Homo sapiens: one gene and its partners. The protein of the gene in region 3 purifies or fractionates together with the protein of the main gene of each other region. This does not show direct contact. Each region holds a gene or a part of one and is shown on either strand. Other genes may lie near its edges.

Region 1 (3,500 bases), on a different chromosome or scaffold from region 3:
AGACTGTCTCAAAAACAAAACAAAAAACAGCAATAATTACAGATAAAAAAAGAAATTTCTAAATTTGATTTATCTGGAGAGGAATATGATGTAATATTTTATCTTATAGTACAAAGTTCTCTAAGATGTATTACTCTATAATGCCCAGTTTGGAGAACATTCTACTTGGTAAGGAGTTAGAGGCAAAAACAAGAGACTTTTACCCCCTATTTAAGTAGTCTGTATGAAGAACACAAAAGACAGCATAAAGCATCGTTTCTGTCATACTTAGCAGTTTTGAAAGGCTTAGCTCATTTGGAACTTTATCCTTCCTGCCTTGATTATTTTTTATACCACTAATCTGTATTATTTGTTGCAACCAATGATCTTTTCATGTCTTGTATGTCTTCCTAAAATCTGAACATAGTTTCTTAGCAACCACACAGATTAAATAAACAAACATGTTAGTAAAAGGGTAAGAGATTTATATATTTAAAAAACCCCTCAGCACCATAGGAAGTTTAAAAAAGTAAAAATAAAAAAATAGACATTTTCTTGTTATAGTCTCTTCCAACTTCTAGTCACTTAAGTATAGTCTTTTCTCATCCCAAGTATTTGACAACTATAATGAATTCCCTGTATGAAATTCATGTTTTCTTTAAGTAGATTACATCTCATTCACAGAACTCCCCCTCTTCATAACACTTTTCTGACTAAAATCTACTGGGCTCACTTTCCCCACTATCTACCATTCACATAAAAAAAAAAAAAAATTGGGAGGCCAAGGTGGGCAGATCATAAGGTCAAGAGTTTGAGACCAGCCTGGCCAATATGGTGAAACTCTGTCTCTACTAAAAATACAAAAATTAGCCCGGTGTGGTGGCACGTGCCTGTAGTCACAGCTACCCGGGAGGCTGAGGCAGAAGAATCACTGGAACCCAGGAGGCAGAGGTTGCAGTGAGCCAAGATCGCACCACTGTACTCCAGCCTGGGCGAGAGAGCAAGACTCCGCCTCAAAAAAAAAAAAAAGAAAGAAAGAAAGAAAAATCTGTGGATACTGTTATCCTGTAAACTATAGAATCCTTTATTTTTCTTTTTTTGAGACAGGGTTGCTCTGTTGCCCAGGCATAATTACAGGTCACAGCAGCCTCCGCTTCTCAGGCTCAAGTGATCTTCCCACCTCAGCCTAACGAGTAGCTGAGGAAGGCACATGCCACCACGCCCAGCTGATTTTTGAATTTTTTGTAGAGACAGGGTTTCACCATGTTGCCCAGGCTGGTCTACAGTTCCTGAGCTCAAGTGATCCGCCCACCTTGGCCTACCAAAGTGCTGGGCCTACAGGCGTGAGCCACTGTGCCTGGCCAAAATATAGGATCCTTTAAAAATGCAGTAGCTGACAGGGATCACATCTTACCTACACTGTCTCCTGTTTAACTTACCATAGTGCCACAAGTTGGGTGTAGTAATTTTTTTATATACAGTTTGTATTAATTTAGAGCATCTCATTTAAAAAAAAGTCTTAGTATTTAAAAAGTGATTTAAAATTACATTATGAAGTTGAAGTATCAACAATAATAGTAACTTAAGAACCTACAAAGTCAAGCTTCTAAAGTATAAATGAAAGAACTTGAGGTTTTTAAAACTTTAGGAATCATTTGTAGGTAGTAACTAGGCTTCAAGCATACTTACAGTTTTCAAAGAATAATACCAGGTATTTCTTGACTTCATACAAGAAGAAAAAGTGGTTATAGTGCACTGTGCTACAATGAGTCTAATAAAAGTTAACTACTAAAAAAAGTTTCCATTAGGGTGGCCAGATAAAGCCTAAATAGAGAAAACAATATTGAACCATTAGGAAATAGGCAGCTTAATCTTCCCCTAACTAATTAAAAAAATACATGCCTTTTTTTTTTTTAAAGCACACCATAGAAATGACGTAGAAAGGGAAAATATCCTGCAATAATATGGCCAGAAATAAGTTTGCTGATAGTCTTCCAATATTTTTCTATGCGCGTTATATATATGTATATACACGCTTTAAACAAATTTGAGATTTAAGTATTGTTTGGTAGCTGTTGGAAAAATTAAGCTGTTTTTGAGAAATTAATTTGATTTTTGCAAGAAACAAATATGCTAGAAAAATTTCAAAATGTTCACTTAATGTAACCTTGTCAGCAAAACTGAGCTTCAAATATAGTTTAACTCTCATTAACATGATATGTCTGACTGAAATGGAATACTTCTGTAATCCTGATCACTTAGCTCCAAATTATTTTAAGACATGGATTTTCTAAATATATCAAAGTACTATAATCAACTTGTAAATATAAGTTAGCAAGGAACACGGAGTTAAAAAAAAAAAAAGGCATAAGCATAAGGGATATGTAGACATGTCAAGAAAATAACATTACTTGAATGTAAACAACCAAAAAGGTTTTAGTTAGAATAACCTATAAAAAATTAAGTTAAAAGTCCAAATTCTCTATTAAAAAACTAACCTAATGGAGATTTAAAAAATTCTGTCAATCTAAATTTTTCTAAAGTTCTTATGAACATAATAGAGTTGCCTAAAGCATAAATCAATTATATTTCAATAAATATTTGAGTATCTATGTGTTATGCATCTGGAATGCAAAGGTGTTTACATCTGGTAGGAAAGACAGGTATATACAATGTGCTACTAACAGTGTATGTACATATAGTACAAAAATAATACTAGAATGAAGGTGACAATGGGAAACATTTTGAAGAACGACTAGCTTATCCTGTGGAAGGGCAAGAGATGCAGTCTAATAAAACATGAACAAAACAGCAGTGATGTAGTCCGAAAATCAGTCAGTTTGATATGGCTAAAACATCAAGTATGCTTGTGTATAAATGCGGAAGCTGAAAAAGAACCAATTTTATGACGGCCTCGTATATGGACGCATTTGGTTATCTTCTCTATAATTATTCTCTTGGTGATCTCATTCAATCTTGTAGTTGTGTGGCTTTAATGCTGCCAATTTCCAAATTTCTGTCTCTAGCCTATAGTTCACTCCTGAACTCTACATTCCTAGATCCAAGCAATCTCCAGCAGACACTTCAAAGTGAACATACTGCAAACAATTTCAAATCTTTGTTCCAAAATCTGCTTTGCTTGCAGTTTTTCCTGTCAATTGATGGCCTCTCCATCCTTGGCTGCAGTATATGTTAACTCCAAGTCTTTGTTCACATGGTATCTCAAAAAGGCTTACTCTTGATACACTTTTTTCCTTTTCTTTTTTTTTTTTTTTGAGACGGAGTCTCCCTCTGTTGCTCAGGCTGGAGTGTAGCGGTGCAATCTCAGCTTATTGCAACCTCCGCATCCTGGGTTCAAGCAATCCTCCTGCCTCAGCCTCCTAAACAGCTGTCATTACAAGCATGTGCCACCACTCCTAACTAATTTTTGTATTTTTAGTAGAGATGGGGTTTCACCATGTTGGCCAGGCTGGTCTTGAAATTATGGCCTCAAGTGATAGGCTCGCCCACCCTGGCCTCCC
Region 2 (2,871 bases), on a different chromosome or scaffold from region 3:
TGGCTGGTGTCTAAGCACCTGTCACTGTTAGGTATTTGGTCTCAGAATCCCCAAATTAAGGAACAGTGATGTATAGCCATTCCCCAAATTAGGATATAGGCTAAAAGCACATTTTCATTTTGAAACTCAGAACTATTCAAAACTAGCTAAGTTTTATGCCACTAATAAACTTTTGAACATAAGTGTATCAGTCATAAAATGGTCATATTAATGACCAGTTTTTTAAAAAAGACAGCATATATTTAGTTGATCAATTATAAGTGGATAATTGTAGGAGCTGAAGCACACTAAATGTGTTTTAAAAATTTACATGAATGATAATAACTATAATCCATTAAGCTATAAAAATATTCTATATTAGTTTCAGATATCCAAATCTTTATAAAACTAAGGAATTTAAAAAATAATTACTGGTTTATTCCCATAAATTTTTCATTTTCTAAATAAGGCTGAAGTGATCTTTTTGGTAGAAGTTTAAAAATCTTTTAACTTAAAATGGATAATAAAGACTCAAACAGTCTAAATTCATCTGAAGCCTGAAACAATGGAAGAGGAAGTAAGGATATCATAATGAATAGAGAAATTTTAAGAGTTCAATAGATAAAAGCTGATAATATACAGTAGGTGAACTAGGGAGTTATTAGTCACTTCACCAAAGAAATACCTCCAACTCCCCCAAGTTCTTTTAAAAGACAAGCTCTGTTACACATATGAACTCCTCTGGAAACCTCTAAAAAGCCAAAGGTACTTTTGTAGCACATTTCAAGCCACAACACTTCCAAATATCTTGTAACCTAAGCTCTGGCTAACTAAGGGTAATTTAGCTTATCAGCAGTACCCAAATCAAATGAGCTATTCTGAAGATACGGATTCAGAGAAATCACAAAGGCTCATGTGCTTCTTCATTAAACATTTGTCTATTAATTTCCCCAGCTATTAACAATTGTTGTTAATAGTTGGGAGAAGTTCTGAGAAGAAACTGCGCTGTCACGGAAACATTTCAATCCCTGTATTTGTCACATTCACCAACTATCTGGTGTGCACCAAGTTACTGGGAAGAGGAGCTATCAGTTGTTCCCTCCTCGCTCCCGCCTAGTCCCCTTTCCTTCCCTCTTCTCACACATTACAGTTCCTTGTTCCTGTAGTATTCAGAGACATAAAACAGAGGAGGACCTTCTTGTGCTCTATACCTTATAAGCATCATTTTTGCTTTCATCTTAAGCCATTTAAAAGTAAACAATAGTTATTAAGGAAAAAACTGTTAAACAGATGCAAAGTGGAAGAGATTAAATTAGGAATTTCCATACACGATGATGAACAAGTAAGAATTTTTAAAAATATTTATTTATTTTGAGACGGAGTCTCACTCTGTCACCCAGGCTGGAGTGCAGTGGCGCAATCCCGGCTCACTGCAACCTCCGCCTCCCTGGTTCAAGCGATTCTCCTGCCTCAGCCTCCCGAGTAGCTGGGACTACAGGCGCCCGCCACCACGCTCAGCTATTTTCTGTTTTTAGTAGAGACGAGGTTTCACCATGTTGGTCAGGCTGGTCTCAAACTCCTGAACTCAGGTGATCCGCCTGCCTCGACCTCCCAAAGTGCTGGGATTACAGGCATGAGCCACCATGCCCGGCCACAAGTAAGAATTAATAGAGAAAAAAGAGCCAGTGGAATTCTCCCAAACAAGTCACAAGTAAAACTAAAACACCACATGCGAATTCTGTGTCCACTGAACACAAATCTGCTTAATCCTCTCCCCATTTCACTTAGAGCTCTTATAATCCTGGAGGTTCAATTTTTTGACTTGCATTTAATCAGGGTTTCCCCAATTATAATTTTTGAAAGGAACTGTCTCTCAGAAAATTGAGCACTTTAACTTTTTTAGTCCTCCATTTTGTTTGCTACAAGATTTTATGTAAAGCTGAATAAGGAAGAATTAGTGGCTCAGATCGAAGTGGTCTTTCTTTGAGCAAATTAAATGAGAACTTATCCCTATCTTATAAATGTAGCATCTTAGCACATATATGCCACAAACTCTCTAAAATGATATTATTTTGATGAGCAAATTGTGGCCAAATGTGATTGAGGGTAATGAACTCCTTGGGAAGAATAGTGCTTACTTCATCAGAAGCCAAATACACGCAGAGCATGGCTATTTCTTCTGCAGTTGCGAATCTTCCCGTCTTTTGTCTCTTCAGGAAATCATTCCGTGCCTGTGACCAGAGACCATACCAGACATTAGTGATGGAAGCAGCTGTATGTGCTCACCTGCATCTTGTTCAAGGAGTTAAAGGCAAGAGAATCCACTGGCTTGCTGCCTTGATGAATAATCAACTAGGGTTATGGTGATTCTTTTGCCAAAGTTACTCAAATTGTTTGTGTTATACTAAAACCCACAGATATTGTGACACATCAGAAAGCTAATGTTAAAGGATGAGGGCATTATTTTTTCATCTTCAAAAGTTGTGGTAAAGTATACAGAATATAAAATTTACTATCTTAACCATTTTAAGTGTACAGTTCAATAGTGTTAGGTACATTCACACTGTTGTGCCACCATCACCACTGTCCATCTCCAGAACTCTTATTTTTATTATTATTATTTTTTCTTAGAGACAGAGTCTTGCTCTGTTGCCCAGGCTGGAGTGCAGTGTTGTGATCATAGCTCACTGTTGTACCTCAAACTCCTGGGCTCAAGCGATCCCCCAGCCTCAGCTTCCCAAGCAGAACTCTTTTCATCTTACAAAATGGAACCTCTCTACTCATTAAGCATTAACTACTCTTTTCCCTCCTTCCAAGCCCCTGGCAACTACCATTTCACTTTCTGTCTCTATGAATTTGTCTGCTATAGGTATGGAAGAGGGCATTTATTAA
Region 3 (3,500 bases):
ATGAGATTTTCATTTTATTTATTTTTGTAATAGAGACAGGGTCTCACTGTGTTGTCCACGCTGGTCTCGAACTCCTGGGCTCAAGCGATCCTCTCACCTCAGCCTCTCAGAGTATTGGGATTAAAGGCCTGAGCCGCTGCGCCCAGCAAGATTTTCATTTTAAAGAGATCTCTTTGCTTTGTGGAAAAAAGGCATAAGAATAGAAGTAGGGAAACTAGTCAGGAAGCTCCACAGAAGTCCAGGCAAGAGTGAGATAGCCTGGATTAGGAAGGGAGCAGGGGAGGTGCAAAGAGGTGACCAGCTCCAAGGGATATGTTGATAGTTGGTATGAATGTAGGAGGGGAGGGTAAAGCTGAATTCACATAGGTAGAAACTTTATCATCTGGAATGACTATTTACAGAAGTCCATAATATTGCTAATTTAAGGTAGAAGCACATCTCTTGAGTATTTTATTCATGCTTAGTGAAGTATTAAAAGGCTTGAGTTGTTATTACATTTGTTGATAAAATTTTAATTGTATTTGTCAAAGTGTATTTGCTGAAATAGAAGTACTGATGTCATTTGTAAAAAGAAATTGGTAATTGGGTGCTAGTCAGTTTATACTAATTATGAGATCTTGGACAAATTAATCTCTCTGAATTCTCTCAACTATAAAATGTATATTAGAATTAATAATTTTCCTTACATGTGGTTAGTGCTTAATAAACAGTGTTTTCTTGAGGTCGATTTTTTTTTTTTTTAATTGAGACAGAGTCTTGCTCTGTCACCCGGGCTGGAATGCAGTGGTGCGATCCCGGCTCACTGCAACCTCCACCTCCTGGGTTCAAGTGATTCTTGTGCCAGTAGAGATGAAGTTTCACCATATTGACCAGGCTGGTCTCAAACTCCTGGCCTCAAGTAATCCACCTGCATTGGCCTCCCAAAGTTCTAGGATTACAGGTGTGAGTCACTGCACCCAGCACTCAGCCTTTATTACTTACTTTTTTAAAAAAAACTAGAGATGGGGTCTCACTATGTTGGCTAGGCTGGTCTTGCACTCCTGGCCTCAAGCGATCCTCCCGTCTCGGCCTCCCAAAGTGCTAGGGCTACAGGCATGAGCCACTGTGCCCAGCCAAGATAGATTTTAAATGAAGTTACCTATGTAAGTTTTAATCAGATATTTGTGAACTCACATATGATTTTTTATTTTCAAGTATAAGTAATCTTTTAGCCAGCCGCTAGTTTATTTGGGTGCTGAAAACACTTAGCAGCTCTCAATTAAAAACCTTCCAATTATTAAATCTTGGAAGATGGTCCTAAATACCAGAAATACAATGGAAATTGGTTGATCCCAGTATATGTTTTAGCTTGGATTTGTAGACATTGTGTAAGGTCCTATTTTATAGGTCTAAGCAAGGCCCCTTTCTTTTTATAGAGCAAATGTTACAAAGCAAATAAAGACCAAATAAAATTAATCCAGAAACCAAATTTAAGGCATGGCCACATTTTAAAAATAGGTGATATTTTGTAGAAACTGAACATGGATAATTAGATTGTGCAGAATTAATAACTGGAATGATGATAGTTAAGATATGATATACCTATACTTTTAATAGAAGTGTGCATTTGTGTTTTGATAAAATGATTAAAATGTAAGCACAGCTGCCCTCTCCCTTTCCCAGTTTGTCTCTGAGGAATTTTTGTGCTATTATTTTCTACTTACAAAAGGATGAGGTTGAGTCATTTAGTCTCTATTGTTTTAAACACCGAAATTCCTAGTCTACAAACAGTAAGCCAAATATAACAGTGCTTATACTTTGTCATGTGTGTTAAATTTTTTGAAATTGTAAATAGGCCTTTTAAAACTCACTAGAACAATCATGCATTTTTCCCTATAATGTGCTATTTATTGATTTAAAATGAAGATAAAGACTTCAGTGTTATTTCTCTATTGTTGCTACCCATGATAATTAGGGGACAAATGGGCTCGTGGAAGGTTCCCCTTTCAGTATCTCTCTGCCTTGTTCATGAACTAGAAAACATCCCTTCTGCCTATGTGCTGTAATCTCTAGAAGGAACACAGGAGAGAACTTGGGTATGTTCTGAAAACAGTAAGATGTGGTGTTACTTAGCCTCAATCAGGCCATTTTTCTTGAAGGTCTGGAAGGCTTTCTCCAGTTGAATATCCTCAGGGAGGACAGTAGTTTTTCCAAGGTTTGATTGTGTTTCACTTTGTAAATATTATACAAATTGAAGTTTTGTTGAGGATTTGAAAGTAGCAGATAACTTTGTTAAATATTATGGTTTGCTTTGACATTGATTTACCAAAAATAATAAAGTGTGAATAAAATGTCAACATATGATTTCTTGGGGGTGAGAATGGCGCTTTGTCCTTTCTGAGATTGTGGTATGAGTTTACACATATTAATGCTCTTCTGCTATTAAAGAGACTTTAAGAGTTTTATCGTTTGTTTTAATTTTTATTTTATTTTTATTTTGAGACTAAGTTTTAAAGCATCTTGTTAAGGACAGTGTTGCCTTCACCACAATAGTATAAGAATATTTAGAGCTTATACAAAAAGGAAAACTAATTGTTTTCTTTCTGAACTGATACCCAAGTGCATATCAATGTTACTAAAGTTTATAAAAAAAAAAAAAGTGTCTGTTCATGTCCTTCGCCCACTTTTTGATGGGGTTGTTTGTTTTTTTCTTGTAAATTTGTTTGAGTTCATTGTAGATTCTGGATATTAGCCCTTTGTCAGATGAGTAGGTTGCGAAAATTTTCTCCCATGTTGTAGGTTGCCTGTTCACTCTGATGGTAGTTTCTTTTGCTGTGCAGAAGCTCTTTAGTTTAATTAGATCCCATTTGTCAATTTTGGCTTTTGTTGCCATTGCTTTTGGTGTTTTGGACATGAAGTCCTTGCCCACGCCTATGTCCTGAATGGTAATGCCTAGGTTTTCTTCTAGGGTTTTTATGGTTTTAGGTTTAACGTTTAAATCTTTAATCCATCTTGAATTGATTTTTGTATAAGGTGTAAGGAAGGGATCCAGTTTCAGCTTTCTACATATGGCTAGCCAGTTTTCCCAGCACCATTTATTAAATAGGGAATCCTTTCCCCATTGCTTGTTTTTCTCAGGTTTGTCAAAGATCAGATAGTTGTAGATATGCGGCATTATTTCTGAGGGCTCTGTTCTGTTCCATTGATCTATATCTCTGTTTTGGTACCAGTACCATGCTGTTTTGGTTACTGTAGCCTTGTAGTATAGTTTGAAGTCAGGTAGTGTGATGCCTCCAGCTTTGTTCTTTTGGCTTAGGATTGACTTGGCATATTCTCACTCATAGGTGGGAATTGAACAATGAGATCACATGGACACAGGAAGGGGAATATCACACTCTGGGGACTGTGGTGGGGTCGGGGGAGCGGGGAGGGATAGCATTGGGAGATATACCTAATGCTAGATGACACATTAGTGGGTGCAGCGCACCAGCATGGCACATGTATACATATGTAACTAACCT
Region 4 (3,500 bases), on a different chromosome or scaffold from region 3:
TGAGGCAGGAGAATCACTCGAACCCAGGAAGCGGAGGTTTCAGTGAGCCGAGATCGCGCCATTGCACTCCAGCCTGGGCAACAAGAGCTAAACTCCATCTCAAAAAAAAAAAAAAAAAACACTATAGTAGTATTTTAAAACTTTAGGACTTTGAGAAATCATGAACGTCTTAGGGTGTATTATGTATATCAAGAGTTTATTATAGTGGGCTACACTATTCCAGTAATATTTCTGTTCATTTAGTACTGTAGCACTTTTCATTTTTTAAAGTATATTATAAAACTGATTTTCCCTGGCCTCTAATGTTGGTCTTTTCTCCCCCAAAATTATGCTTTATCATACCACATGAACAGTAGTACGGTGGTGGTGGTGGTGGTGGTGGTTGTTGTTTTGAGACAGAGTTACACTCTTGTTGCCCAGGCTGGAGAGCAATGGCACAATCTCAGCTCACTGCAACCTCTGCCTCCCGAGTTCAAGTGATTCTCCTGCCTCAGCCTTCCGAGTAGCTGGGGTTACAGGCATGCACCACCATGCCTGGCTAATTGTTTTTGTATTTTTAGTAGAGACGAGGTTTCGCCATACCGGTCAGGCTGGTCTCAAACTCCTGACCTCAGGTGATCCACCTGCCTCGGCCTCCCAAAGTGCTGGGATTACAGGTGGAAGCCACCGCACCTGGCCCAGTACAGTGTTATCAGGTGAAAAATATCTTGATGTTGTTTTTGAGGTTGTGTTACAACTTGAGTAGATACCTTGTGAAATATCTATTTTTTCACATTTGGGAGCTGCCTCTCTCTACATTCAAATGTTATCTGAAGTAGCCTCTAAATGGTTCCATGTATCTTTTTGAACTTCCTTCTTTTAGTAGACATTTTTGAACATCTGTATGAACAAGGATTTATATTAAATGTTGGTACAGAGAGGAGCTACTACAAGTTGAGCATCCCTAATCTGAAGTCTGAAATGCTCCCAAATTCTTCGAGCATCAATATGATGTCACAAGTGAACAATTTCCACACTTAACACCTTTGCTTTCTGATGAGTCAGTGTACATAAACTTGGTTTAATGCACAAAATTATTTTAGCTTCAGGCTATGTGTACAAGCTTTATGTGAAACAAACGAATTTCATGTTTTGACTTGGATCCCTTCCCAAAAATATCTCATTATGCAAATATTACAAAATCTTTAAAAATCCAAAACATTCCTGGTTCCAAGCATTTCAGATAAGGGATACTTAACCTGTGGTCATTGCTCAAGTAACTCCCAATCAAGGAGAAGAAAAAGATATAAACCAATGATTATAAAAGGTGTGAAACGTTATTACACAGAGAACTCTGGGAGCACAGATGTAGGAGATATTAACTAGGGTGGAATGAAGGAAGGTTTCTAAGCAGAGTTGAGGAATGAATTGATTATCTTCTTTGTTAATCTGAATGGGATCCATTCCTGTTCAGCATGATTTCCCTTGGTTTTGTTCCTAGATTTAGGAATGATGCCCTGTTTTGCCATAAGGAAGAATCTCGTGTGTTTATTAGGAATGGATATTGACTCAAATGCCTTTTTGTAATTTGTTTAAATAAAATGGATTTTTCTTCATTAGCCTGTTAATGTAATAGTTTTGTATTTCTGAAAGAATGTACTTGGTAATGGGCATTTGTTTGTCTTAATGTATTTGTTGCAATTTCTTTGTATTTGGCATTTTTGTACATGTATGGTGTACATGTATGGTGGCCTCTTGTGTCTTTAACTGGCTTGAGAATTGGATCATATTTTCTTTAAGGCAACATCTCTAATACAGTTGGCCCTCTGAATCTGTGAGTTCCACATTTATAAATGCAACCAACTGCAAGTTGAAAATATTAAGGGGGAAAAAATTAACTTAGCTCCAAAAAGCAAAAATTAAATTTGCCACACACTTAATACTATGTTGAATCTATGTGGATGACGTGAGGTGCAGGCATTGTATTAGATATTATAAGTAATCTAGAGATGCTTTAAAGTATACAGGAGGATGTGCTTAGGTTATATACACATACTTTGCAATTTTATATCGGGGACTTGAGCATCCTCAGATTTTGTTATCCATTGGGGATTCTAGAACCAGTCCTTCATGATATATGGGGAGGTCCTGGAAACAGTCCTCCACAGATACTGAGGGATGACTATAGTTATTTCCCTGAGCCTGAAGTTTACTTATGGACGTATAAGTGAATGTTTTTAGTACTAGTAGACTTTGTGATCATAGTATGTCTGAAAAATGAAACAGTCTGTGCACATTTTAATTCCTTTTTTTTTTTTTGCAAGTCTGCATCAAACTATACTTGAAAAAAGGCTTATGTATTGTGACTTATTTTCCTCTTTTCCTTTTTGGTAAGAGTACTGTCTTAGGGACTTAATTTTAGTTTAAAATTTTAGTTTAAAAACATTTTTTGATCCTACAGGAGAACCTCTCGTGACCTTCAAAAAGTGACATAGTGCTGTCTGGATATCCTTTACCATAAATACAATATTTTAGAAAATGGACAATTCTGCTAATTGTTGGTTAAAAAAAAGTTTGAACTGGATTAGAATATATTTACAATGTGATTAATGAGAATTCATAAAACTATTAATTAGAATCTAGGTCCAAATGAAGATGTTTACAGTATTGTTTGCAAAATTCAGAAGATTTTAGTTGTTGATACTAAAGCCAGCAACCAGTTAACCTAAAAGAGCGTGAAAAATAAATGTTGTGTCTAACGTAAAAGAGATATATCTCATTAGACTTTGTTTCTTTAGCACATTTGATACTGGTTAGTACATCTCTATCAACGTCACTAGATAAACGGCTGTAATTTAGAGAAATATATCATAATTCTTTTGCATAATATGACAGTTTTAGAAAATGGTAATTCAAGTGCATACCAATTTGGAAATAGGGCTTGAATATCACACCTTGAGCTAAATGTAGAAGGAAGGGAGGAGCATACCAATTTACAGTGAATGATAGAGCAGCAGCAGAGGGCGGTCTAATGGCTGTGTGTAGGTCTTTTAATTTTAACAATATTGTATCATTTTATAATGCTACTTTTTTTTTTTTTTTGAGACAGAGTCTCTGTTGCCAGGATGGAGTGCAGTGGTGCGATCTCAGCTCACTGCAACCTCTGCCTCATGGGTTCAAACGACTCTCCTGCCTCAGCCTCCCGAGTAACCGGAACCACAGGCAAGCGCCACCATGTCGAGCTAATTTTTGTATTTTTAGTAGAGACAGGGTTTCACCATGTTGGCCAGGATGGTCTTGATCTCCTGACCTCGTGATTTGCCTTCCTCAGCCTCCCAGAGTGCTGGGATTACAGGCATGAGCCACCACGCCTGGCCTATAATGCTACTTTCCTAGTGTTAAAATTAGAATCAGGGAAAGTACAGATCCAAAAAATTCTTATGGCAGGGAATGAAAGGTAGGAGCAAATATTGAATCAACTGAACAAATTAAATCTAGGTTAAGGTAATAATGACTACCAC
Region 5 (3,444 bases), on a different chromosome or scaffold from region 3:
GCCAGCTGCCAACCTTGAAATACAAATTAAACATTTAAGTTGGCATAATGAACATTTCCAGGAAGGGCAGTGGCTAATAATCTGTAGGACAAGGCTACCAGGTTTACTATGGCTCCTCTTCAAATGACAATGACAAAGATTTGAAGTAATAAGGCCAGAAAAGCCTTTTCATTTCCAAAATCATCTTTCCTGGAAGACTTGGAAGTTCAAACTTCACTACGTGAGATTTCACTGCTCTCATATCAAGCCGACTGACCTCCATAGCTCAAGAGACTACCTGTTAGCTGATCCCCTAAAGCATGGAGGATCGATTCAGGAAGGGGGATCTATTCAGGAAGAGATCTATGCATCAGGGTTAGCTGTATGAGAAGTATGAGAAAATCTGCTTATATTATTTTTGGCTACAGACAGGTGTTTCCAATTTCTCATGTTTAGTCTTAAATGCATCCAAGTTTGTGTGTGTGTGTGTTGGGGGTGGAGGGAAGAACCAGATACACTTATTTTCAAACAAAAGCTGCCACATGTTTATTAAGACATTACTGGCTCTTAAGCACAGCTGGATCTATAAATCATTTTCCATATATTATCACATATTCAGGAAAGTTTCTGAGATGATATATCAAGACAGGCTTCTCTTGTGACTCAACTGGACCTGAGGAAAGAACAAAAGAAATTACATACCTGATTTATAGCTGCTGGTCATCAACAGACACGTACTGGCAATGTAATCTTTTGAGACAGGAGAGCTAAACTGCTTTCCCCTCCTTGCTAAAGCTTTGCCCAAAATGCCTGTACCTTTAAAAATCCTTTGTCCTAATTAAATCTATCTGCATTCTCAAAGTCCCTCAACATTCATTAATCTCTGAGGAGACCAAACAGTCAACTGTGATGAAGAGGCCAATTGCAAAGCTCAATCTCAGAACCACCACATCTCAGGCCTGAAAGGACACCATGAGAAGGGAAGGATGTTCTATGGTTTTAAATATTGGGCAGCAGAACTAATGGCCAGCCCCATTATCTAGCTCTGTGAAACAGAGCAAGCTGCTAATCTCTCAAGAAACATATATATAATAAGAGGATTCAAGCTCATACAAGCTATAGCTATATCTGAAGACCCATCTCTCTGTGTTATTAAGTCTTTTGTGGATTAAACATGTTCAGTAATTACAATTTTGATGAGAATTATTGAATGCAACATTAGAGATCAGACCTCAGAAGAACCGAGCCAGATTGCTGTGATTTGGGATAAGAAAGGAGGGTCCAACTTCAGCTAGACAGTTCCTGATCTACTTCCAACCCACCCCTCTAAATAAAGATGCAGTAACTTAGGGGTAGAGAAACAAAGCTCAGCTAATGTGCTGCTTCCACCAACTGACAGCAATGGGTGTATCTTAAAACCTGCAGAATTTGTAAGAAAAGGGTTTTCTTACTTCAAATAGTCTCTTTAGAAGTCTGAGTAATGGTGCAACCTGGAAAAGTAAAAAATAAGTCATCTGAACAACTTTGTAATTACCCACAGTGTTTTCAATTAGATCACAGAAGGGCACTTAGGAAGATTTTAGTGGGAAAAATATGTAATCACAATCATTCACACCAGGCAGTTAGGTTCAGACTCCTCAATCTGACATTCTGGAGGATCTGAACGCCTCAGATTTTAGGTAACATGAGTAGGCTTACTCCAAAGTTTCACATGGGGGGTCTATGAAATACCTGATCAGACATAAACAATAAAAATGTCATCAGTCAATTCCAGTCACTGGTATAGCTAGAAACAGTGTCATTCTAAAGAGCAATGCTCTGGTGGAAAATCTAATGGCCTTTGGGTCTTAGAGAAAAAAAAATTTCACTTATAAAAATACCAAAGGATTTGGAAGAAAATTCTAAGTGCAATAAGAATCTGCATCCTTTTATAAAATACAAACTGAAACAGAACCACTCCAAATCTGATCTGAAATGAGACTGATGAAATTATCCTGGTATAACCTGTTTTCCTTTCAAAGTAAGTAGAACTGTAAACCACATTATTGTCTGGTATATTCTCCTTTCACAACTATTTCCTCAAAACCAATTTACATTCCTCCTTTTCTTCACTCCAGATTTTAGTCCGTTTTGAAAGCAGGAATTCCCTAAAGCATACAAACATAAACACAGGGTTCTATGTAGCATTCACTACCAACACAAGGAGCAAGGCAAGAGGGCTGTGATTTACATCACAAGTTTTCTACTGAAAGCTCTTTAGTTCTCCCTAAAGATCCACCTTGTCACCTATATCTTCTAGCAATGATGCAATTAGGTTTTGTTTGTTCCTGTTTTATAGCCAAGTATGTTGGGTACAGAAAAGAACCTGGACAGCGCATATAAGTTTTGGTTATCTTTGTGGTTAACACCCTTATTTACAGCTTACAGCTACAGGGAAAGAAACACCTTTTAAAAAGAAATCAATTAAATCTAGTGGAGTAAACTGAATTATTAAATCAGCAAAAGCTAATCTAAACATAAGGCACGAAGAAAGTGGAAATATTATTAAAGTGGCTTTTTCTCAATTTGACATTCTCAAAATAGTGCTTTCCAAAAAATATATATATTCCCCAGGTGAAGTTTCCTGCTAGTGACATTTTATGGTAGAAAATTACCCAAAGTACTGCCCAAGGTTATTTATAGATTCAATGCCATCCCCATCAAGCTACCAATGACTTTCTTCACAGAATTGGAAAAAACTACTTTAAAGTTCATATGGAACCAAAAAAGAGCCCGCATAGCCAAGTCAATCCTAAGCCAAAAGAACAAAGCTGGAGGCATCATGCTACCTGACTTCAAACTATACTACAAGGCTACAGTAACCAAAACAGCAGGGTACTGGTACCAAAACAGAGATATAGACCAATGGAACAGAACAGAGGCCTCAGAAATAATGCTGCATATCTACAACCATCTGATCTTTGACAAACCTGACAAAAACAAAAAATGGGGAAAGGATTGCCTATTTAATAAATGGTGCTGGGAAAACTGGCTAGCCATATGTAGAAAGCTGAAACTGGGTCCCTTCCTTACACCTTATACAAAAATTAATTCAAGATGGATTAAAGACTTACATGTTAGACCTAAAACCATAAAAACCCTAGAAGAAAACCTAGGCAATACCATTCAGGACATAGGCATGGGCAAGGACTTCATGTCTAAAACACCAAAAGCAATGGCAACAAAAGCCAAAATTGACAAATGGGATCTAATTAAACTAAAGAGTTTCTGCACAGCAAAAGAAACTACCATCAGAGTAAACAGGCAACCTACAAAATGGGAGAAAATTGTCGCAACCTACTCATCTGACAAAGGGCTAATATCCACAATCTACAATGAACTCAAACAAATTTACAAGAAAAAAACAACCCCATCAAAAAGTGGGCGAAGGATATGAACAGACACTTCTCAAAAGAAGACATTTAT
Region 6 (3,500 bases), on a different chromosome or scaffold from region 3:
GGAACTGCTTGGGCCTTGCTGAGCCAGGGTCCTCAGGGTGAAGCAGGACTGAGGAGTGGCCAGCTCTGGATAGCTGGCTGTGGAGAGGAAGCCTCCATGGGCTGCTTTGGTCTGTGGGCTCCTTCATTCCCTTGGTGATAATTTCCCTTTATTCTGTGGGATTTTTGGTGGGGTTTTCCCCCCTTTTTTATGGAGTTGGCCAATAGGATTGAGTTGGGGCTCCAGTAGAGAAGGCAGGGTTGGTGGTGGGTGGGGGCAGCCTGTATCAGACAAAGGTAAATCAGCCAGCCAGGCACCCACAGCCTCAGCTCCTGTGCAGTTCCTGGGCAGCACAGTGGAAGTGGGAGCCTGGTCCTTCCCCTGCCCATGGAGAGCTCTTTAAGGGATCCCAGCCTGCCCCTCCACTTCTCTCCCAAGCCAGGTCCCGGCATGGGTGGGTTATGCTCATGCTGGCAATACTTGAAACGGGTTTATTAATGCTGGGTATTTTGCACAATTTTATAGACCTCTTTTCTACATAGTCTTTTTTAAATGGAAGGAGAAAATGTCAGCCACATTACTGTCTGTGTAGTGCCAGGTGAAGGGTTATCAGAAGGCTGGTTGGTTTTAATAAGTTTATTCCAAGAGACCTTCTGGCTGGAATGAGTGAGAGTGTGTGTGCATGTGTGTGTGTGTTCATGTGTGCCCTGTATGAATGTGGCTGGCTCCCATATCCCCTGGGCTGCCCCCTGCCCCATCCCCTTTGAGTGTCAGAAGCACTCTGAGCCAAGGGGACAGGGGGCACGTGCACTGGTCACGAGAAAACCCTGGGCTCCCACTGGGGCTCAGCCCAGCCTCCTATCTTTCCTTCTTCTATGGACTTCAGACAGCCAGTGTCTGGGGACTCTGCCACTCTACCCCCAGCCCTACCCACCAGCCCCCAGGTGAGGCTTCCAGCTGGGACCTGCCCAGACAGGCTGAGCCTGGGCGTGGTGGGTGGGGTGATGGCTCTGGGGAGCGGCTGCCATCCTACAAGCCACACCCCCTCCTCTGAGCTCTGAATATGGGACCCAGTGCCAGGAGCTGGAAGACAAGGTGTTTCTGCCAAACGGGGACCTCCATCCAGAGAAAAGGAAGAAGGTGCAGGGTGGGCCAAGAGGCAAGTGAAGGTTGGCCTGAGTCTGGGCCGGAAACTCAGAGGATGTTTCTCCTCTGCTGGGAGCTGTAGTTTCTTATCAAAATAGATATTGTTCCACCATCCCCCTCCTTGGCCCTTCAAGTGGGCTGAAGCCCTTGGAAAGTGACATAGGAAGTCCCCAGATCTTGCCCTTCTCACTCCAGAGGCTAGTGGTCACAGACAGCTGGGAATGGCAGCCACAGAGGGTCCCCTCTGGGAGAAACAGCTTCACCCCAGCCTCAGGGCCCTGGGCCATCACTGCAGTGGCCCTGGGAGGTGAGGAAGAAGCTGGCTAGAGGAGGGGGCTCCCACCTACCTTTTATTTAAGCCAGTATTCTTTGTTCCTGCTTGTAATAAAACTTCAGTTTATAAGAGTTGCTTTGCTTTGGTTTGGTTTTTGTTTGCTTTTCCTTTGCTGAGGCCCCAACTGGGAGCCCTCTGTTCTTTCAGACAAATTTGGTTCTTTCCTGGGGAGACTGTGAGAAGGCAGGCAGCCCAGTGATCTGGCTACATTTTCCCTCACCTGGCTGGAGCTCTGTCCGCTGGAGGAAGAGCAGAGAGGGCTGCGGCTGAGCCCCCATGGGCACGTGAAAAGAGGCCATCCTGTCCCCTCTTTGTCCCCTCCACCTTCCCCTGCCTCAGGGGCTTGGAGACCCCCAAATTCTTCTTCCCTACTGCCTTTCCACTCCGATCCCCAATGAGTGCCCAGCTAAGAAAATGTTTGAGACAGTAGATTCCAGTTTGAGAGCCGGAGCTTCCCTGGCTACCACCTCCAACCTGGGCACCAGGGCCCAGCCAGACAACTCATAACACTGGCCCACCTCTCTGGTATCTCCCTCAGGAGGACACCTGTCAGGATTTTGCCATCTCCTGCACAGCCTGAGGGGAGCTAACAGGCCTCTTTGCAGAGGGTTAGCTGGTAAGACCGTTTCTTCCCTGTCGGCCAGCACTGCCCGCTCCCCTCACACACCATCTCATCCTCATCGCATGCCTCGCCAACCCCATGGAGCCCGTCCATCTGTCTGGTGTGTGGTGCGGTGTGTGTGCTGGTGGTGGTAGGGTCTCCAGGGACTCCCCGCTAAGCAGAAGGATCGGGATATAGGGCAAGGCTAAAAGCCCAGCCCCATTGTGGACTGAGGAAGTAGCTTCTCGCAGAGCAGCTCTCCAGCTGGAAGAGGAGGTGGAGGGTGAGGCTGGGGAGAGGATGGCGAACCTGCCCTGAGGTGCTTGGGTCTGTGCTGGTGGGGTCCTGGTATGCAGGGGCCACCGGTCACTAACACTCTTATGTCCTGGCTTTCTGTCCCCGCTGAGCTTTCTCTCACCCGCCCGTTTTCTCTCCTGCTTCATTGCCTGCTGCCTAAGCCTTGGCCCTTCTCTCGGGCAGAGGCAGGTGCTGTGGCAGCACCTCTCCCCACCACCGGGGCCCCTGCAGGCCGCCTCCCTCCTCCCAGGCCTGCTAACCCTCTCTCTTCTCCTTCTTTGCTGTCCTGCCGGGGATCTCCAGTGTGTGCGGGGGCTTAAGGACCTCCTGAGGACCGCTGCTCTCTGCCTCTCCAGGAATGGCCTGGGGGGAGCCAGGCACCCGGCACCTCCACCTGCCTAACCTGTGGCCCATCTGCCACCATCTGTGCCTACAGGGTCTGCCCCCCAGCCTGCCCGGCCTGTGTGCTCTCTAGGACCCCCATAGGGGGCAGGGGCTGGCCTCTTTGCCCCATTCCCGCTCCATGCCGGCCAGAGTGTAGAAAGCCATAACGCAGCCATCAGCACAATAATGTGACTCTACGCTGATATGCTCCCTCTCTCCTCCACTGACTTCCCCTTCCCGGATTTGTGAGGTGTCAAGACTAGGAATCTGGCCTTAGAGCCTGCCCCTCCACCCCCTCAGATCAGGCATAGCCATAGTCAAGCCCAGCAGGTTTCCTCAGGAGCTGTCTGGGGTGTTGATGGTGGATGACGCTGCTGAACAAGTTTGGTGACTGTTCTAAGCACAACTGGCTTGATACTGTTCCCACGGCCTGTCCACCTCCCACCCCCAACCCTCCACCAGAGTAGGTAGGATGTAGGGAGGGTGCGTGCCTCCTTTGCTCTAGGCACTGAGGGACCAAGCTAGCCGTGCACAGCCCCATACACTTCAGGGGACTAAAGGAAAGAGCTGAGCCAAGGAAAATCAGCTGAGCCCAGGGCTGGGGGCTGCTTGTCTGCTATCCTGTACCTTTTTTTTTTTTAACCAAAATAAAGATTCCCCTCTTCTTGCCATACCATTGGCTGTCTGGTGGCGCCTTTACTTTGGGGCCCAGGGATGGGACCTGCAGTGGGCGTGTGGAACATATGGCTCCCCCTCGCT
Region 7 (3,500 bases), on a different chromosome or scaffold from region 3:
TCATCTAGGCCACTACAGATGATGGTGCCAGCCACTCACTAGTTGCCAGAGACTGGCCCTGGCCAGGAGTGAGAACCAGAGGCTTATGTGTTTTGAAAAACAAAAATCTTAGAAGAGTTAATGAGCTGGCCAGTTTGCTCACCATTCAACTTGTTCCCTTTGCACCATTTATAATTGGGAACTTTACCACACTTACAGTCCTCTTCAGAGCAGACCCTAAGCGCCTTGGGCCCCAAATCAGTCTAGTATTGGTCATTGGTAACAAAACTTAGACTGTCACCGACTGAGAATACTTGGCTTGATGGGGTGGAGAACCTGGTAAGGGGTTCTGTTTCTTCTCCTAATTGTTCTTTTCCGTTTCTTCCTGTGGTTTCTTATGGATTCCATTTATTTTGGTTACAGCCTCCAGGCTGTGGCTCCTGAAAATTTCCTTCAAGAGAGAATCCAAGGGCTGAGCTCTGGAAACTCTGGAGAAAAGGATTTTTGTGTCCATAGATCTGGTGTTTTCCTGGTTATCTTTCTCAGAATCGCTTTTCTTTTAGACCAGCCACAGACAAAACAGAGACTCACAAAACCTTCCAAAACATGAAATGAATTGAGTGCAAGAACCCACCCTCCCCCTTGTAGGAAGGCATCGGCTCCATTCACTTTGAGGCAGAGGCTTAAGTTGGCTCTGTTCTAGCCTAGGAGAAAGCCCTCCTTGCTGGTGGGAATGTGAGGGCCATCCCAGTGTGCATGGGGGGCAGGCAGGCATTGCTGTACAGCCCTGAGCCTGGGGCCTCCATGACTTTGCCCTCCATATTATTGCAAAGCAGAGGATCACTTACAGGGAAGAAAACTACATCAGGACATCTCCTTTGGTGACGTGTGCCCTGTCCCAATTCCTCAGCAGTCAGTCACCCTCTCCGCTCCCCCCTGAATAGGAACATGCCCTGGAGAGCAGATGGGAACCGTTCCATCTTGTTGAGTTGCTGGCATTTTGCACCTCTGCTGTCTCTGCAGCAGGCAACTCTTTCTTAGCCAGGAAAGCCCTTTACGATGGCTTTTTCTAAACCTGGACTAAGGATGAGAGGGTGAGTATTACTGATGGTTGGCAGGGGATGAGTGTGTATTCTGGGTTACTGCTTTTGTTAAGTCGGGCACCCTCCATTTTCCCTGGCCATGGTGAAATGCCCCGGCCCTCTGCTGCTGCAGCACAGGAGAGGGGTGGGACACTGAATATACTTCTCATAAAAGGTGTGTTTCTGAGGTGCTCTGTCTTGTGTGTCCCTTAACGATGGGGTTACTATGGTAACTATCCATCTGAAAAAAATGCAAGAGTAAACAGAAGATAAAGCTCTTGCTTAACTAGCTGGAAGGTGGATCTGTGCCCCTCTTTGTTATCCCTACTTGACACAGCTCCCTCCTCCCTACCCACAGGGCTGAGGGCCCACCCTATGGTGGTAGGAGTATGGAGAGGCAGTAATTTTGGCTTGTGCAGATAAAAGATGAGCTGGGGTTTTGCAAAAAGGAAGAGTCTTGGATTCTGGGGCTCCTTGGTAAAGAAGGCAACAGAATGACATCCCTGCCCAGCTCTTTCTAAGGAGCTGAGATGCTCCTCCTTCTGCCCCTCCTTATCCACCTTGCTACTCACTGTCACTTACAGGTTGGTCCAGTGTGGCATCCCTGATTCCCAGTTGAATAGCAAAACATAAGCATGGTCCTTCAAGTTTCTCTAATGGAGAAACTGAGGCTACTGAACTTTTCAGTCACAAAGTAAGAGCATAAAGGGGTAAAGCTTGCGAAGCCAGGGATAATGTCCTCTAGCTCCTGGAGAATCCATTTTCAGGTTTCTCAACCCGATGTGCTTACTTCTGGGCTACTCTGTTGCTTTCTGTTCTTTACATACTACCTGCCCTCACCCAAGTCAGGGGCCCAACCACACTCTTCAGGTCTTTTTATCCATCATTCTCATTTTTCCTGCACAAAAAAAAAGTGAAGGCAGCACTGCAGAAAATATAGACCACATCCCTCCCCTCCTCCCCGACCACCAACGGCCACTGAGCCTTCTCTCAGGGAGGGCCTTCCTCCAACGTTTTGGGCAGGAAGAGGAAACAGGCCACCTCCACTTTCCTGAGAAACTGTACCTTCAAACGATTTTCTTGCCAAAGGGTTGGGCTTAGGACTTAGCAAAACAGGTCACCACTGTGGGCATTCTCCTTCTGCCTCCCTTCCTCTCTGTTAATGAGGGGGCAGATAAAGCATTCTTGGCACATTATGGTCAGAAGATTGTAATCCATCAGCCTCCTCCTGTATATTCTGGCTCTGCAGATACCGATGGCCCAAAACTTCGTTGTGGCCTCCAAAAGGGGAAGGTTGTGGAAGGGAGGGGAAGCCAGCAAAGTGGGCTACAGCTCAGTGGTGCTTGATATGCCTCTCAGGCCTTCCTGCCGTGAGGATTCTGCCCAGCACCCATCGTGGCTGACTCTCCTTCATGTTCCATTGCTCCCAGGCTCTGTGTTCTTGTTGGGCTTAGACTCTTGGTTTGGCATCCTCTTGGGCCGTGGGCAGGACAGTGGCATTACGGATGTGCTCTCCCGCCCATGAACACAGGAGAATGAAGGCCAAGCTGGGCTGGCCAGGCAGGCGCTTCTGCATTCACAGTACCCAGGGCCCAAGGTCACATAGGCATCACAGGCACCTTTTTGGCTTGGCCAAGGTGGGCCCATCACTGCTGGGCATTGGGACACTACCACGATCAATGATAGGGAAGCTTCAGTGAAAATGCTGGGTGGCCATCTCCCTCCTCCACTGGTAAACTAAACTGTGCTGACACTGGTACAGGGAAGGGAATAGCGTTGTGGAGACTGATGGGTGAAAGTGGGAAATGTGAGCCCCTCCACCAGATTCCATGTAAGCACTGGCTATCTTGCCTTCCACCCTGCCTTAGTTTTGTGGCTCTCACATGTATAAAGCCCAGGTAAGGGACCCTGTGGCATTCTTTATCACTCTCTGTATCACTGGCATGTGTAGCCCTGCAGGCCTGGGAACACTGAGAAGACAGGGGCCTCCTGGTGCCTTGGGTCCCTCCTGCCAAGCACAGAGTTGTGTGTCATCAGTATGGTGATTACTGAGCAAAGGAATTCCTGCCTTGGATTTAGGGGGAAACCTGCTATTTCAAGTGTGTCTGATCTCCTCCCGCCCCTGCCCCCAAAGCTAATATGAGAGTTTCCTTGAGTAGCCAAGCAATTTTTCAGCTTTACACACATACAGCAGGTTATTTGCATTGGGTGGAGCTGTTAGTACCTCTTAAAAATGCATGCCCTGTGTCATACCGTAAATTTTTAACACACGATTTTTATGCAGCTAGAATTTTCTTCCTAGTTATTTCATAATGATTCTGAGTGCTGGTGTTGCTGGAGAAATCTAGTGTTTACAACATAACTAAATATTAGAAATTCTTTAGTACTGGGAGGAGGTCAGATTTGAGTTGGGCCCAGAAGGGTAGCCTAGAATGACAT

Evidence for each region.
Region 1: the proteins of GOLGA7 (region 3) and NAA50 purify together in Homo sapiens (affinity purification with mass spectrometry; one large-scale study listed by BioGRID and IntAct). This does not show direct contact.
Region 2: the proteins of GOLGA7 (region 3) and BDH2 purify together in Homo sapiens (affinity purification with mass spectrometry; one large-scale study listed by BioGRID and IntAct). This does not show direct contact.
Region 4: the proteins of GOLGA7 (region 3) and RAB5A purify together in Homo sapiens (affinity purification with mass spectrometry; one large-scale study listed by BioGRID and IntAct). This does not show direct contact.
Region 5: the proteins of GOLGA7 (region 3) and UTP18 purify together in Homo sapiens (affinity purification with mass spectrometry; one large-scale study listed by BioGRID and IntAct). This does not show direct contact.
Region 6: the proteins of GOLGA7 (region 3) and ZDHHC18 purify together in Homo sapiens (co-purification; one study listed by BioGRID). This does not show direct contact.
Region 7: the proteins of GOLGA7 (region 3) and MACROH2A1 purify together in Homo sapiens (affinity purification with mass spectrometry; one large-scale study listed by BioGRID and IntAct). This does not show direct contact.

Annotation. Positions count from the first base shown.
Region 1 is NC_000003.12:113,725,750-113,729,249, forward strand, and holds part of NAA50 (N-alpha-acetyltransferase 50), read right to left. Parts: intron 1-3,500. UniProt on the Homo sapiens protein: N-alpha-acetyltransferase that acetylates the N-terminus of proteins that retain their initiating methionine. Has a broad substrate specificity: able to acetylate the initiator methionine of most peptides, except for those with a proline in second position.
Region 2 is NC_000004.12:103,079,964-103,082,834, forward strand, and holds part of BDH2 (dehydrogenase/reductase SDR family member 6), read right to left. Parts: intron 2,211-2,871; coding exon 2,118-2,210; intron 1-2,117. UniProt on the Homo sapiens protein: NAD(H)-dependent dehydrogenase/reductase with a preference for cyclic substrates. Catalyzes stereoselective conversion of 4-oxo-L-proline to cis-4-hydroxy-L-proline, likely a detoxification mechanism for ketoprolines.
Region 3 is NC_000008.11:41,500,582-41,504,081, forward strand, and holds part of GOLGA7 (golgin subfamily A member 7), read left to right. Parts: intron 1-3,500. UniProt on the Homo sapiens protein: May be involved in protein transport from Golgi to cell surface. The ZDHHC9-GOLGA7 complex is a palmitoyltransferase specific for HRAS and NRAS.
Region 4 is NC_000003.12:19,971,097-19,974,596, forward strand, and holds part of RAB5A (ras-related protein Rab-5A), read left to right. Parts: intron 1-3,500. UniProt on the Homo sapiens protein: The small GTPases Rab are key regulators of intracellular membrane trafficking, from the formation of transport vesicles to their fusion with membranes.
Region 5 is NC_000017.11:51,294,990-51,298,433, reverse strand, and holds the end of UTP18 (U3 small nucleolar RNA-associated protein 18 homolog), read right to left. Parts: intron 1,470-3,444; coding exon 1,445-1,469; 3' UTR 1,431-1,444; intron 653-1,430; 3' UTR 501-652; downstream 1-500. UniProt on the Homo sapiens protein: Part of the small subunit (SSU) processome, first precursor of the small eukaryotic ribosomal subunit.
Region 6 is NC_000001.11:26,854,188-26,857,687, forward strand, and holds the end of ZDHHC18 (palmitoyltransferase ZDHHC18), read left to right. Parts: 3' UTR 1-3,417; downstream 3,418-3,500. UniProt on the Homo sapiens protein: Palmitoyltransferase that catalyzes the addition of palmitate onto various protein substrates, such as CGAS, HRAS and LCK. Acts as a negative regulator of the cGAS-STING pathway be mediating palmitoylation and inactivation of CGAS.
Region 7 is NC_000005.10:135,371,732-135,375,231, reverse strand, and holds part of MACROH2A1 (core histone macro-H2A.1), read left to right. Parts: intron 1-3,500. UniProt on the Homo sapiens protein: Variant histone H2A which replaces conventional H2A in a subset of nucleosomes where it represses transcription. Nucleosomes wrap and compact DNA into chromatin, limiting DNA accessibility to the cellular machineries which require DNA as a template.